Linked DNA regions of Homo sapiens: region 2 is linked to region 1. Evidence: fine-mapped QTL for protein levels in blood plasma. A gene starts in region 1. The other region holds a variant in brackets. All regions are shown on one strand. Distances are from middle to middle.

Region 1 (8,346 bases):
TATGCAAATGGCAATTTCTTAAACATAAACAATTGCATAGTCACAGACATACAGTCATAAAGTATTTTTCATGTTACAGAAAATAAGAAACAAAAACATTTTATTATAAGGAAGCAAAAGAAAATAAAGATGGAAAACAAAATATTTAAAAAATATAAAGAGATTTTAGAAATAGCCTTGTTCCCCGAGACTAGAACATGCAGAGAAAATATAATTAGAGGAAGTGACATCATTCAGTCAAATATCATCAACACTAGAGGCTCAGAGAGGGAAAATTGTTTGCCTAAAGAAATAAAAGAGACTTTCACTAAGTATATTTACACTAGTCTGGGAAATCAGCATAACGACATGACATAAATACCATTTATTTGTGACTCCAACTCAAATTGTTCTTCTGACTGAAAATAACCAATGTATTTAATAGATTACTGATTAGGATTTTTCCTTGATAAATGAAACTGCTAAGGATTAGTAGTAAAAATAATGTCCTCTTTTTTTATGTGACAGGAAACAAATTTTCATTATTTTAATCCGCTCCCAGATAATATTCAGGAGTCAAAAATTAAAAATCATGAAATGTCTGTATCTTCTAGACTTTGCTTTAATGTTATTTGTTGAAAAATTTTTTTATTTGATTAAAGTTTTCTTATGCATTTGTGGGATCAAGTACTTTATTTCAGAAGTGAATAAATTAGCTTAAAAAGTTAGAGCTTAGCCAGGCGTGGTGGCTCATGCCTGTAATCCCAGCACGTTGAGAGGCTGAGGCAGGCAGATCACTTGGGTCAGGAGTTTGAGACCAGCATGGCCAACATGGCAAAACCCCGTCCCTACTAAAAATACAAAGAAATTAGCCAGGTGTGGTGGCACACACCTTTTATCCCAGCTACTGTGTTGGTTGAGGCATGAGAATTGCTTGAACCTGGGAGACAGAGGTTGCAGTGAGCCAAGATCACACCACTGCACTCCAGCCTGGGTGACAGAGTGAGACTCCATCTCAAAAAACAAACAAACAAACAACAACAACAAAAAACACCTAGAGCTTAAAAAAGAAATTTTCTCATTCCAATGTTTGATTCTGGCTCTTGCATAAATGGAAGTATGTTTTGAAAATGCTCTGAATGATGCACCTATATATCATATAATTTTACCTACGCACACTGTATATATACGTATATGTATGAACATAACATTATTATACATAATATGTATATATTATAGATTATATTATATATACATTATATAAGGTATATAAATATTGCTTAGCATTAGATTTAGTAAAAAATAAAGGGCTAATGAAATTTTTTTGACAGGCCTCTGTCTCTTGATGTCCTGAAATGTTTATCTCACTACCATTAAGATAATCCAATAATCAAAAAGGCACCCCCTAGTCTGGTAGCATATAAACAATAAAGCATTTCAAAATGTAATTATTTACATTTAGAAAGTCATTATATTACTTTGATTAGCTTTAGAATAATTCCTGAGAATATCTTAAGTTCTCTAAAATTTTCCATTTTCCTCCTTTGCAATTCTAACCAACATTCTCTGTAATATTGAAGAAATGCTAAGCATTAAGAAACTTGCTTTGAAATTCTGGTCTCCATCATTCATTATAGTAAACCATTATTTCTTCTGCACATCTGGCTTACAGTAAAGTTGTATCAAATTATTCTGTTCATTTATTGCACAATTAGTTGTATTTCTTTTATAATATTTTTGCCTTAGGCAGTATCAAAACTTTTAATTATTATAAAATTAAAATTGTTATCAAATGGCTGTTCTTTGGTGGACTATATTATTTTACATAATTTTAATGCTATAAATTCTAATTCCTTCCCCACTATATTTAAAAAAAATTTAATTAATTACGCTGCATTAAATTTAAAGATGAAGACATTAAATTTGTAAATGAAAAGTTCTAAAAATAATATATAATTTTTAAAAACAATTACAAAACAGAAGTACATTAGTAGCATGCAAACATTTCAAAACTGGTATGTTTTAAGCAAGCATTGTAAAAGGATATATAAAAGAAATAAAAAGGAAGGAAAAAGTTATTGAACGAAGTATGTTTAATAAGTTAGCATTCACAAACGCTATAGGACTATAATGCTTAGGACTATAACCTAAGTCAGTGAGTTAAAAATGTACCCATAAACACAAGCTTAGAGACTCCTTTTAAGCTATTTCCTTCCAAATTTTTTCCTCTTTCTGAAAATGGAATATAACTGTGCTTTTGTATTTTTCTTAAGAATCCATACTCACTGAAAGCCTTACAAAGCTAAATATAGTTGATCCCTCAAGAAATGCAATAAAGAAAAATGTTTCTGAAGTTTTTTGACTTCTGAAGTGAAAATTGTCATATAGTCCATTTTATTTTTAATTTTTTATACTGAAACTGTAAACCTATCATTTACGTCAAACTCCCATGCAATTCATTCAAAATGTAAAGGAAATTATACAAAGTGAGACTCCATCTCAAAAAACCAACAAACAAACGACAACAACAAAAAACGCCTAGAGCTTAAAAAAGAAATTTTCTTATTCCAATGTTTGATTCTGGCTCTTGCATAAATGGAAGTATGTTTTGAAAATGCTCTGGGTGATGCACCTATATATCATATAATTTTACCTGCGCACACTGTATATATATGTATATGTATGTACGTAACATTATTATACATAATTATGTATATATTATAGATTATATATACATTATATAAGGTATATAAATATTGCTTAGCATTAGATTTAGTAAAAAATAAAGGGCTAATGAAATTTTTTTGACAGGCCTCTGTCTCTTGATGTCCTGAAATGTTCATCTCATTACCATTAAGATAATCCAATAATCAAAAAGGCACCCCCTAGTCTGGTAGCATATAAACAATAAAGCATTTCAAAATGTAATTATACATATTTAGAAAGTCATTATATTACTTTGATTAGCTTTAGAATAATTCCTGAGAATATCTTAAGTTCTCTAAAATTTTCCATTTTCCTCATTTGTAATTCTAACATACCTTATTTGTATATCTGTATATTTGTATATCTGTATATCTGTAACAAAAGATACATAATTCTAAATCTCTTCTCCAAGTAGCAGAAGCAGACTCCTTGCTAGTCAACCTGACTTCTTGCAAAAGCTAATGGTTGTTACCTGAGTTTTGGTTACTATCATACCTGTGAAATAAATTAGCATTATTACAAGCATGTCAAAAATGCAGAGACATTAAATAACTTGCCTAAAGTCAGAAGTGAGTCAGAGACCCAGCTCAGGTTCCATCCAGACACTCTGCTTCCCAGGATCCTGTAACTGCATTGGGAATTTGTAATTATTTCTCCATTATTTGATTAGAAATAGGGACAATGTTGATTCTGGCTTCAATCCAGAAACAAACATGTGGACACAGGTTTAACTGAAAGAAAGCTAAAAGAGAAGATTCAAGGACAAATCCCAATACTCTGATATTTTTCTTTTTTCCCCACTTGTATGACTTTTTGTGAAAGATCCAATAATATATCTTTATAAAGATATATATATTTTACAACTTATTATTATGTTCATTCAGAGAATTTTTGTACTGTAACTTCAATAATGTTCCATTGAAGATTAAGTAAAAACGAAGTCCAGCTGAAACTTTGCTTTGTATTAAGGGTAATAACATTTTACCCACAAAAATATGAATTAATATGTCATCTCAACTAAAATATGGAGATAAGCCAAATTTTTCCTAGTTATAAAAAACAAGGCAGGTTAATAATTGCCAAGGTGAAATGGTCAGTTTATTTGCTCTCTAAGAAAAACAAAAGTATTCCCTGAGGTGCAAAATTGTGAAATTTAACTGGAAGCATCGATTATACTCTGGACAAGTTGTTCCTTTTGTTTTAAAATCCTCTAGAAGATTTTCTAATGTGTAATAGGCACTTGTTAGCTCCATTAATCGTATTGTGTAACAGTTTCTTACTGGAAATCTGGGTTCATCATTTCTTCTTTCCTTCTGATGTAACTCAAGCAGTTGTTTGCCATTTGTCCTGTGGTCCCTATTTATTCACTCAGATTCCAGTAAAATACCAAAGTTTTGTTTTCTTTCTGTTCTTTGTTATCTACTGGACTTGAGCACTGACGATGTTTGGTCTTCCCATTAAACATCTTCCTGTCCTTCACGTGGACATTTTGAAGATTATTAAGGGAAAGGTAATCCTGTTGATTTACTGGAAAAAAGAAGGAAAAAAAAAGCCAGTTAGACTGAAGTGATTTGCACACACACAGAAGAAGTGGAAATTATACATTCATAATTGTAGAGAATTCAAGCTGCTAATGTTAAATTTCAAAAGCAAAAATATGGGATTATTCGGCTAATTCAATAATGATCTCTGTGGTAAAATGACATATTTTGAAATACAAACTTATCTTTCCTTCTTGTATGCCTTTAGCTTTGTCCCCATTCAAGCAATAATTTAGCCTTGTGTTCATTTCCTCACTGGAGGGACATAACATTAACAGCAGCTAACATGTGGTATACTTATCATGTGCTAAACATGGTAATTTTATCAACTCACTCAGCCACACAGCCCTATAAGTAGGTACTGTTAATGATCTCCATTTCACAAATGACGAAACTGAGACACAGAGGTTTAAGTGACTTGCACGAGGTCACACAGCTAACAAGAGGTATAGCTGGGCTCAAAGGCAATCCTGCTCAGAATCTGTCCTCTTTTCTACTAAAGGTAGACTATGCTGTCTTTCGGAAACTTGGCTAGCATCATTACCTCAGGAGAAACTTGCAAAAGTTAATCAGGCAGTAAGGACTACTCTAGGGCCAATACTTTGTGGAGGAATTCCAAAAGCCAAATTTTCTTGGAGTAACATTATTCCATGGATGTACTGCCATAACATGGTGGAAGAACTATCATCAGGAAAGGTCAAAATTATGGCCAGGTGCGGTGGCTCACGCCTGTAATCCCAACGCTTTGGGAGGCTGAGGCAGGTGGATCACCTGAGGTCAGGAGTTCGAGACCAGCCTGGCCAAAATGGCAAAACCCCATGTATTTTTAGTTTCTACTAAAACTACAAAAATTATCCAGGTGTGGTGGTGGGCGTCTGTGGTACCAGCTACACAGGAGGCTGAGGAGGAGAATTACTTGAACCCAGGAGGCAGAGATTGCAGTGAGCCGAGATCGCGCCACTGCACTGCAGCCTGGGTGACAGAGCAAGACCCTGTCAAAAAAAAAGAAAAAGAAAAAAAGCAAGAAAGAAGAGTTGTGACCTTGCACAACTGCACCAAAGCTATGAAATGAGAATGAGACCTGAGATCACTGGCTGAAAAAAGTACAAGAAAAGCATGATATAATAGGACAACAAGTACAGTCCCACCAAGATCAGGCTGATTAGGCTCTCAAACACATTAAACGGACACTGTCAATTCTTTTTTCCTTTTCCTTTTGGAAGACCTTTTTCAGAGAACTCTTCAATTAATACATCAGTTACAGCACAATTTTCATCCAAACCCTCTGGACCCTGTATTGTGCCTGCCAGATTGAACACCTGTCCATTATTTGATACTTGACCCAGTCACCGTGGGAAGGTTTAATTCCAGATCTTGCCGCCTCCAGTCCACTCAAGCTTGCAGCGAGGAACATGTCTACTTAAGGCTGCATGAGGAACTAGACTCAGACAAATGATCTTATATCCTTGACTGTATTCTACCAGCATAAATTTCTGATGGTTATATTTTCCAAACTTGACTCCCAGTTCAGGAGGCACCCTTTTATGGGACTTATAAAACTCCATGCTCTGATTACAATGATAACATTTTAAACTTCAAATGTGCCCTTTATTAAAATATTTAGAACGGAGCGTATTGTAGATATCAAGGAAAGGGGTTGTTAAGAACAGTCTTCGTTCCACACAACTAGCAGAGCTTCCTCAGGTGGAGGTAATCAAATTCCTTCCTGAAATGCTGGTTTCAATGTCATCTCAGGCAGAGTCCTGAAAAACTAGAAAGTTTATTTGCACATAACGTAGGTCTCAGAAATTTCAATGGAGAAGCATTTTAAAATTAATAAAACTAAAACAGTTTTACTAGTGAGTTATCCTAAGTATTCCCATTATTGATGTAACTAGCAGAAAGTTTACATTAATAGATGATCAATAAATAGTTCCACCTTCACACACACTTTCTGGGAAAGATTCTGACAATATGAACTAGAAAAATAAGGGTAAAGGTGGATAAAGAAAAAGAGGAAGAAAAGAAAAATTGAGGTGCTTTGTAATGTGTCAACTTGGGTAGGCCGAACTACAGTTCCCAGAATTCCTTTTGCCTTATGTTTTCCATTAGGAGCAGTTGGCAGGCAGAAAGGAAGTGGCAGCCATCTTTGCAGCTCTCCCATGCTGTAACGTATCTCGTTGGCCTTAAGATAGTGGCTAAGCCTCCAGCTGTTTCACTTCCCTTTGGATATAATTTGGAGCCTCGTTTAGCACATTACAAATGGGTCTGGCTTCTGTAGGACACCCACATCAACCAAGGTCAGAGGCAACAAGAACTGACACAGGTTTCAGTCCGTCCTCATAGATTCCAGCTCCTGCTTCTATTACGCTCATCTACTCTCTCGCTTAACTGCAGTTCGTACTTCAAGCTCCAACATCATCCCTGGAGACAGCTGCCTTTCAAAGAGTACTTAACCAGCTCCCACAGTTGCATTAAGTCAAATCCCTTATATATCCTAGAAGCTCTGCTTCTATGATTGAACTCTGCCTGTAACTCTGAGGCTCCTGGACAGGAAAGTCGAATGCCTCAGAAGGAATTTTGTCACTGCACCATTATTTCTTCCTCCCAGAGCTCTCTGTTCTTTTGCTCACATCTGGATTGCTCTCCCTCTAGGCCTGCTACATGAGGCATGTAAAAAGTAATACTGATAGACATTTGGCAGATACTCCCAAATGTGTAGCTTCAGGTTCCACACAACCTATGTCCTCCCCTGCATACTAGTTAAGATAAAATGAAACGCTTATTCACTACTCATCTTTTCAGAGCTTTCTCACCTATGTGTTTGGATTTTTTTCCCCTCTGATTCTCAAACTAATTTTAGATTGGTTCCCTAGCAGGAAGAGTACAAAGATGTTTTCTTTTTTTTTTTCTGCCACAAAAAATAAAAAGTGTTCTTGCTGAGGAATATGTTTGTTTTTCTTTCTGTGTGTTTGCAAGGACTGTGGACTGGCATTTATTTTATGCTTCTGAATAATAACATCTTTCTTATTAAAGAAGAATCTCCCCAGAAGGTCACATGTCATTAAAAAAACAATTTTAACCAAATACACGTAAATTCTAATAGAAAACAGATTTTTTACCCGTAACACATGAAGAAGAAATTTAGCTATATTGTATAAAAATATGTAGGGAAAAAAGAACACAAGAGCTCGTGTTAAGTAAAACCACATTTTAAAATACGCCTTTAGGAACACGGAAGATGGAAGGTATCAGAAGATACTTGCTTTCATTCTACTCCTCGGTGATGATGTATCTGCTTTTTTTTTTTTTTTTTTGGATGAATTTGCAGTGTATCTTTTCATCCTGATGCCTAAATCCAGTCTCTATATGTACCTCTTTTCTCCAGTTTTTAGACTTTTAAAATATTATCTTTTCATGAAGAATTCAACTAATTGGAAAATGCGTGATTCCTACCACTATGACAATATCTGAAAGTAGAATCCTCAGGGTTGCAAGCTATTCTGACAAAATTTCTGAACTCTAGCAGAAAATGTAAAAATATACATTTGACAAAAATATATTTGCCCATTTGAATTTAAATTTTGTCTTTTTTTTACTCAGTTTTTATTTCTTAGAAAAAGGAAGACAATCTAAATATAATTCCCTGAGATATAGTTTCCTTTCACTTCAAAATAACTGTACATTAGGTTGAGAGACAAAAAAATTCATTGTCTACAATTACACATACTTTCTGATTAATCTGTTGGTTAGCCCACATTTAGTTCATCAGGCACAACTTATTTTTCTGCATGTGCATTTGGGACAATAACCGGGCATATGAAACCTTTAAAATTTACATTTAAAAATTTATATTTGCACTTGGATAACTTTGCCAATAACTAGAACTCCCTCAAAAACAAAGGCTAGGTCCCTGACTCCTATAGGCATGACCAAGAGTATACTACAAAATGATTCCTCTGAGACTGAAATGTTTTTTTCCTGCTTCCCCCTCAGAGACACATTGTGGAAAAATTCTAGAACTTTTAGAATAGACATTGTGTGCTTGACTCCAGCGATCAAAGATTCTGAAATATTGAGGCCCTATTTGAGAGTCATACACTTATACTAGTTTTATTTG
Region 2 (8,346 bases), 31 kb before region 1:
CAACGAACATTCGAGATCCTGTCATGTGTCAGACACTGTGCGGAGAGCTGGAGATAAAACTGTCAACAAGATGAATGCAGCCTCTAAAATAAAGAGTTTCTAATCCAGTGGATTCTCTGTTCATGCTTCTTGCACTTTCTCTACACTTTGCTCTATCAAAAAAAAAAAAATTCAAAACACTCACGAGTTTGTTGACCTTAAAGTGGAATCAGCTGATACAAATTAAAAGCATTTTGCATTTCAAAAAGTGATAAAGTCTAATAAATAGCTCACTAATGGTGAAATTTCAGAGACATTTATTTTAGGCTGGGGTCTTCCTAATTCAGAAAAAATCAGTCCAGTTTCCCTATTTTACATCCAAACTCCTCAAATGACCAATCTCTATTCTCTCTCTTTTTTATTTTTTGGATGAGTCTCTCACTCTGTCGCCCAGGCTGGAGTGTAGTGGCACAGTCTCGGCTCCCTGCAACCTCCACCTCCCCAGTTCAAGCGATTCTTCTGCCTCAGCCTCCCGAGTAGCTGGGACTACAGGTATGCATCATGATGCCCAGCTAATTTTTGTATTTTTAGTAGAGATTGGGTTTCACCATGTTGACCAGGCTGGTCTCAAACTCCTGACCTCAAGTGATCCACCCACCTAGGCTTCCCAAAGTGTTGGGATTACAAGCGTGAGCCACTGCTCCAGGCCCCAATCTATTCTCTCTAACTGCTTTTATTTCCTGGCCTAGAGCTCCCTACCATTCCACTGAAACGGATTTAATAACACAAATAGCATTATCACTAAGTCCGAAGATATTTCATTAGAACTTCTCTTCCATTATTTTATGGCATTTTAAATTTTTAAAATCACTCCTTCTGCATTGAAAAACTATCATACTGAGGTTTGACGCCATAATTTGTTTAGCTCCCCTCCCACTTCTCTGTGGAATCATTTTTTTTCTCCTTTAAAAGCTTTTCTTCTTTTGATCTCCTAATTGTGTGAGTTCTTCAGGCTACTACTTGAGCAATTAAGCCCATATTTAAAATTGTCACTGATGATCCATTATTTATAGCTTACCAACGTGTGTTTTATGGAACACTGTTCCCACAAGACCACATTGAAAAACAATCAAGAACCCTGGCAAACATTTCTCCTTTGCCTGCACATTCTACAGAGATCATAAAAATAAATATTCTTTCTCCTGATCATACTTCCAGACAGAGTGAACATATGATACAATTCTGACCAACAAGGCATAACTGAAGTCTGTTGACCCTTCGCTTTTCTTACTGCTTTCAACACGAACTCAAAGCAGGAACCGTGGTAGATAATTTGCAATTTTGAAGGATGGGCTAAATGAATTGCAGGGTCATCAGCCTCCACGCTGCACTGAACATAGGTCAGCAACCACTTACCTCCTGAGTTCTCACTACGTAAGATGAAGAAATCTTTATTTGTTTGGACTTCCGTAGTCAGGCAATTTATACCTCGCACCAGAACATACTCTTAATTAGATATAAAAATGCTACATACTATATGTCCTTCTTGGAGCTTCAGAACGCACATTAGAAAAATTAGAGAACTGAGAAATTCCCAAGAGAAGAAACCTGTGGAATTCTGCTGAATTTGTCATCTCCTAAATTTATTTGATCAGGCAGCCCTTTTCTTCTTTCTGTACTGAACTACCAATGTCTCACAGAACTATGGCTCTCTAGCTTTTTGCTTTTCAAAGTGTAATTTCTAGACCAGCAGTATCTGCATTGTCTGGAAACTTCTTAGAAAACCCAAATATTAGGCCCCATCCTGGAAGCAGAGTTACATTTTAACAGGATCTTCAGTTGGTTTGTATGACACTAAAGACTGAGAAGTGCCGCTTGGGAAACACTGATTTAGAGAATAAAGTACAACTAACCTTAATATCCTTATGTGGCCTATGATTTCAAGGGCCTCTATATCATTACTGTCCCTTAATGCCTACTTCACAAGTCAACACACCTAGTTCTTATTGAATGCTTACTTTGTGCGAGGCACTATGCCAAGTGCTATAGTTTTATAATTCTCAAAGCACCCCTATGAGGCAGGTACTATTGTAATCGTTACCTTGTAGATGAGATAGCTAGGGCTCAGAGAAGTTAAGTTGCCTACCCAACGTCACATAGCCATTAAGTGGCAGAATCCTTGGCTTAAGGATTTAAGGATCACTCAACTATATTGGCTTTCTAAGCTTTTGTTCCCAAGCACTTTCCTGCTCTGTGTACTTAACACACATGATTCCCTCTGCCTGCAATATCTCCCCACGTACACCTTCTTAAAAGGTCTCAGCTCAAAAAGTCAGTTGTTCTGGGAAGCTTTTCTGATCTCCTACCCCAAAGCCAGGTCAGATCCTCCTGGTAAACATTCCCCAGGCACATATCTTTACTTCATACATATCAGCTTTTATAATTATGTATATTTTGTGATTCTATGATTAGTGTATGTGTTTACCAAAAAACTAAGCTCCGTGTGGGCTTTAACTGTATCCTCTGTGCCTGACACACAGTTGACACACAAATATTTTTTAGAGTATCTTTTTTTTTTTTTTTCTTGAGATGGCTTCTCGCTTTGTTGGCCAGGTCGGAGTGCAGGTTGGCACGATCTCAGCTCACTACAACCTCTGCTTCCTGGGTTTAAGCAATTCTCCTGCCTCAGCCTCCCGAGTAGCTGGGATTACAGGCTCACACCACCACGCCCAGCTAATTTTTGTATTTTTAGTAGAGATGGGTTTTCATCATGTTGGCCAGGCTGGTCTCAGACTCCTGGCCTCAAGTGGTCCACCTGCCTCAGCCTCCCAGAGTGCTGGGATTACAGGCGTGAGCCACCGTGCCCAGCCTTTTGGAGTATCTTTTACTCTCATTTGAAACGTTCTCTCCCTATTCTGCACCAATCCAAGTTCTACCCAGAAGAAGCTATAGGATGGTGGCAAGATATTTGATTTAGCATCAGAAGACTTGGATTTGAGGCCTTGTTCCCCTACTTTGTAACTTGGAGCAGTCACAAAAACTCAGACCCACTGATTCTCAGCTCTGTTAAATGGACATAATAATAACCTCACAGGATTGGCATAAGAATTAAAATGAGCCCTGTGAGAGAAGTGTATAACCTACATAAACTTCCTAAAAATACGAGTAGCGTTTTGTAGTGATTAAGATCCTGGGTTGTGCTTAAAAGTTTCCACTCTGTAATCCAAAACCTGAGTTCAAATCCCAACTCATAATATTTATTGTCTCTGCGGTTGATTCGGCAATCCATTATTTGCTGGATTTTGTCATGTGTTTTGCCAATTGCATTCATAATTTATTATGCATTTATGCTTGTATCTCCTAAGTCATGGTATATAATCCATGCTTTTTATGTTTTGTCTGACATAAGCTCTTATCAGAGCCCTTTGCACACAGGGATTCAATAAATATTAACACAGTCTACATTTATTTGGTGAATATTGCATATCTGCTGTACTGAAAGCACATTAAGTAACAAAGGCAAGTGAGAAGAATGAAAAGCACTACTCACAACAGTTATCATGATTGCGCATGGATATGTTCAGAATGAGTATTTTTCAAATCACTTTAAACAAAGCTGAATTGCAGAAACGAAAGCCCAACAGCAGCAATTAAATTACATTTGGAATAAAATCATTTGGCCTAATTTTCATAACCACAGATTTCAGAGAATACCACCACCCATGCCAGGTGTACCAGACAATCCCATTGTCTGTTTTAGCCGTGTAGGGGCCGCTGTAGTATACACCATTCAGGTTTGCAGAGTGACACCTAGTGGAAGGGAGAAAAAAAAAGAAAACAACAATCAGACTGGAAAAATATTGTTCAGAATCCCTTTTATTTTGCTACAAATGCTCAAAATTTTTGAACTATGAATTCTGCCATTTTTCAGACAAGTAAATATTTACTAGTTTCCAAAAGCTGAGAAATTTCTACAACAGATGGCTATTGTATTTTATTTTTTATTTTTTAATTTTTTTTTAATAATAGAGACAGTGTCTCACTGTGTTGCCCTGGCTGGTCTCCAACTCCTGAGCTCAAGCAATCCTCCTGCCTCAGCCTTCCAAACTGCTGGGATAACAGGTGTGAGCCACTGCGCCTGGCCTCAGAGATGGGTATTTTAAAATGGTGAGTTTTACTGCCATTACAAATCTGAAAATACAACCCAGGCCACTCACAGTGCATTGAAAAATAAGCATTTCAATTTTTGATTTTCTTTAAACAAAAAATTAAAACAAGCAAACAAAAACGCATCCTTGTAACCTCCAGCCTTACAACCTCCTGACTCAGAACAGTGTTAATTTCATACTTAACAAGAGCTAAGGTGAGTGTCAGCAAAGCAAGTCGTGGGCAAGGTGCTCTACTACTGGCTTTCCTGGATAATTTGCACTCACACGTTCATTCCTCTGCTGCTAAGACTTAGCTTTCATAATTCAAACTCCGTATGTCCCCTTCTTTAAATTGCTAGCCTATCAGTTATTTCAATCTCAAGGGTAAGCAAACAAACCTAAATCACCATTTAAAGTTTTGCCACCCATCAACCAATAATCATTTTTTCCTAGTTGCTGAGTTAATTTTTTACATATATTGCACCAATCTAGATAA[G/C]CTGGTTAGGTTATCGACAATATAAAAATGTTTCTTTCCTCCTTTGGAGTCTGTAAATTTTGTCCTTGATATGTATAATTTACATGTAACAGTATGCAATAAGTTTATGTGTGTTGTTATGAAATTAATTGCCATATACTTCTTTATTGATAAAATTAATGAAAAGATGTCAGAATTAGGATAGAAGGAGAACATTCACAAGAGGTAGTTCTGAACATCTATGGAAAAACCCAAATTATTGAATCAAAAAAGCATATAATCTACCCGTAAAGGCTGAGTGGCTGGCTTGAATCACTTATCAGCTTAATGATTCACTCCTACTGAGCGTTCTCGAAGTCCTCCTAACTTAAATGGACGTAATTAATTGAAAATATGTATGTCAAGTCTGCAAATGTCAAAGCCTACTGTGTTTTTAAAACAGCATGGAAAGTAATGTTAAAAAAAGAAAATACTGTAAATTGAGTCTCCAGAATATATATTTTGGCATATATTTGTCTATCTAGAGACATCTGCTAACTATATTTTTATATTTGGTCTATCATTTGAATCCCATTAGGAAACTGACTCTGTGATGAACATAAGAAACCTTCACTATTCTGAGACCAGTTTTCTAGCATCGTTTAGTTTTTAGAACAGCCTGGATTTGAAACTAGGTTAGGGGATGATTGGGTCTTCCTTGGTGAAGAAGTGGCTGTGAACACTCACGTGAAATGCTACACTAACAAAGAAAAGACATCAACTCGCAGTGATTGGTTTGCTATGTGGAAAAAAACATTTTATAGGTGGGTAATATTTATGAAGTGCCAACATTTCATGTAAATTAGAAGAACTATGGGACAGAAAAAAAGCAACAGTAAGAAGGAAGAAAAGATGATAGTCGAACTCACTGATAGTAGGCATGGTAGAAGTAGCACCAAGTTTCTAAAACAATCTACTTTCTCTCCCTTAATGCCTACTGATTTTCCAATTGCACAGCCTTATCAACCCCTTTGATTCCAAGGATAATGTGGGCTCTGTGGCAGGCTCCACCTAATGAATGGCCTTTCTTTGTGCTCCCTGAACCCATTTCTTTAAAGTCAGGTAAATCGTTCCTTTGCCCACATTAATATACATGGTAGTTTTCATTCAGATGCCTTAGAAGCCAGTCAGCTGGATAAAGTACATGGTTTTGATCTCAGGATACTATTAGTAATTATTTCTGTATATGGAATTGTTTTCAAAATCAAACATTGGTGATGCTTGCAGATGACTTCATGAATTACACGTTAAGTTTTATGTCATGCTGACTTAGAAGAACAAGGGGGAAAGAAAGGAGTAGGAACAGGTGAAGAAGACGGTTTTTAAAATAACAGGAAAACCACTAAGGAAAACACCATCATCACCTTCAATTTGCAAAGCAGGAGAGTGAAATTTGTTTCTCTCCTTCACACTGCTGGAAATACTCCAGTTCCTTTATAAATGATCAAATCTTAAATGGACTCAAATGTTTTTTTAAAAAAGCAAAATATAGAAAAGATGACTATTTTTACAACAGCAGTAGTACTCCCTTATCTGCAGGGGATACGTTCTAAGACCCCTAGTGGATGCCTGAAACTACAGATAATACCAAATTCTATATATTGATACTATGCTTTTTCAGTCTGATAACCGAAACAGCTACGAAGTGAGTAACGAGCAGATAAAGAAAATAAAATTTACCAAACTGAAAGACATGATATAGATTCAAAAGAACCACTGAGTACCCACTGCAGTAAACCAAAAGAAGACCACGACAGTGTATGTCACTGTAAAATTTCAGAACGCTAGGGGGAAAAATCTTTTGGGTGTAGGAAGGAAAAAAACCATCTATAGTAGTTCTCTGTTTTTTCCTATAATATACATACCTATGACAAAGTTAATTTATAAATTAGACACAGTAAGAGATTAACAACAACTAATAATAAAAGATTATGATTATATAACAATATGTCAGCATTACAGCTCTTGTGCTTTGGGACCATTATTAAATCAAATAAGCATGATTCGAACACGAGCACTATGAAACTCCAACACTGGATCTGATAACTCAGACTTCTACTAAGTGTCTTGGGGCAGGGAGGGCTTTCAGCGTGGATACGCTAGACAGAGGGGTGACCCACCTCCTGGGCAGAAAGAATCCAATGGTGCGAATCTCTGCTCAGAATGACATGCAATTTAAAACTTATGAATTCGGCAGGGTGCGGTGGCTCACGCCCAACACTTTGGGAGGCCGGGGTAGGTGGATCACATGAGGCCAGGAGTTCGAGACCTGCCTGGGCAACATGGCAAAACCCCATCTCTACCAAAAATGCAAAAATTAGCCCATGTACCCCAGAAATATATAAAATATTTTGTATCAGTAAAAAAAGAAGCAACTATATACAATCAAAAACGGAATGAATTTGCTGATAAAGTAACATGAATGTATTCAGTCAGAGGGTAGAATTAGGTTTCTGGATTATTGTAAAGGAAATTTCTGTATTGGGAGAGGCTTAGACTCAATGAATTAATGAAAGCCATAGTGATTGAAAAGTAGTACTATACAGAAGCATTACAGCAATAACGGTGGCTCTTTTGTGTGATATGGTCAGGTGAAGAACTAGTTGGTTATTAGGATGCCAAATAGTCTCCATATATATACATGCTCTCTCTTTCTTTGTGTGAATTTGTGGCCTTCTATTTATAACTCATCCATAATTCAGTTTGCAAATGATCTTTGTAAAAGTAATAATTTATTTCTATGACATTTACACTTTACTAATGTACACAATGAACAAATCCTCAAAACGACTTCATTGCTGAAGAATTCTAATGAGAATGATTACTTAATAATACTAATATTATAAATAAAGACTAACATTACCATACATATTATATTGATAATTAATGTCTATCAGTGAGATATCATCAACTCCATTACAACTATGCTCATAAGACATCAAACCTGTTAAACCACCAGCCAGACTGATCTTCTTCTGCGCAGTTCCCTTCATAGTTGTCATGATCTCTGTCCCACGTGCTGAATTTCATTCTTTGGTGACTAGCCCACCACTGCACCTCAGGATGAAAATTCCCCGCAAGGGAATCTCCAGCTGTTCCAGAATATTCCCCAATATTCAACTCGTAGAAATTCTAAAGAAAAAGGGCATTTCTGCTGTCAGTGGAGTTCCTCTATGACCATTTTAAAATTAAGTTTATTTCATAAACAAAAGAACAGGTTCTATTGTATATTTTTATTTCCACTGACTCCAGGGTTATATTGCACATTTTAAGCATTTATTCACGGTTTTACTTCTTAGAAAATTGTAGTACCTTTTCATCTCCAACTTTGAAATTCTTATATTGTGCATAACGGCTATTTTTTTCAAAATCTGCAAGGTCGATTTTTAAAGTGTAGTCTTCTAAAAAAGAAACAAGCAATTATAATTTTTAAAAATGTGTGACATGACACGGACTACTGCGGTTTAAAAATAATTCACAGCTCTATTTTAATTTTACCATTTCCCTTGGCCAAGAATCAGTTTTCAAAGATTAAACAGTGACTCCTTTGTATATATAACATGAACATTTTATCGTGTAATTTATTTGAAAAAAAATGATGGATACAATATTAAATTTAAAAAATGTCTACTAGATCTCTTAGAGGTAAAACCTAGTGCAATTCACTGAATAATGAACAACAGAAAAAATAAGTGATTACTTAAA

Alleles and levels. Alleles are on the strand shown, and positions count from the first base shown. The strength of an association depends on the size of the effect and on how common the allele is.
As copies of C replace G in region 2, the plasma level of the protein whose gene starts at base 3,320 in region 1 goes down (moderate association).

Evidence for each region. PIP is the posterior inclusion probability: the model's chance that the variant is causal. Protein levels are from antibody-based Olink assays in UK Biobank. Linkage for the fine-mapping came from a reference panel and not from the study's own genotypes, which makes the PIPs less certain.
Region 2: its variant is fine-mapped to the plasma level of the FGL1 protein (UK Biobank, PIP above 0.99).

What each region holds. Positions count from the first base shown.
Region 1 is chr8:17,892,205-17,900,550 of GRCh38, forward strand. It overlaps FGL1 (fibrinogen like 1), which reads right to left and starts at 3,320. Exons shown (of 8, transcript NM_004467.4): 1 at 3,243-3,320.
Region 2 is chr8:17,860,963-17,869,308 of GRCh38, forward strand. It overlaps FGL1 (fibrinogen like 1), which reads right to left. Exons shown (of 8, transcript NM_004467.4): 6 at 7,954-8,042; 7 at 7,586-7,773; 8 at 3,427-3,789. The coding sequence ends at 3,630. It overlaps LOC124901893 (a long non-coding RNA gene), which reads left to right. Exons shown (of 2, transcript XR_007060835.1): 2 at 1-107. Among named protein-coding and RNA genes, the nearest start is that of FGL1, 30 kb to the right of the region's middle. The variant G/C (reference allele first, on the strand shown) is at 4,624.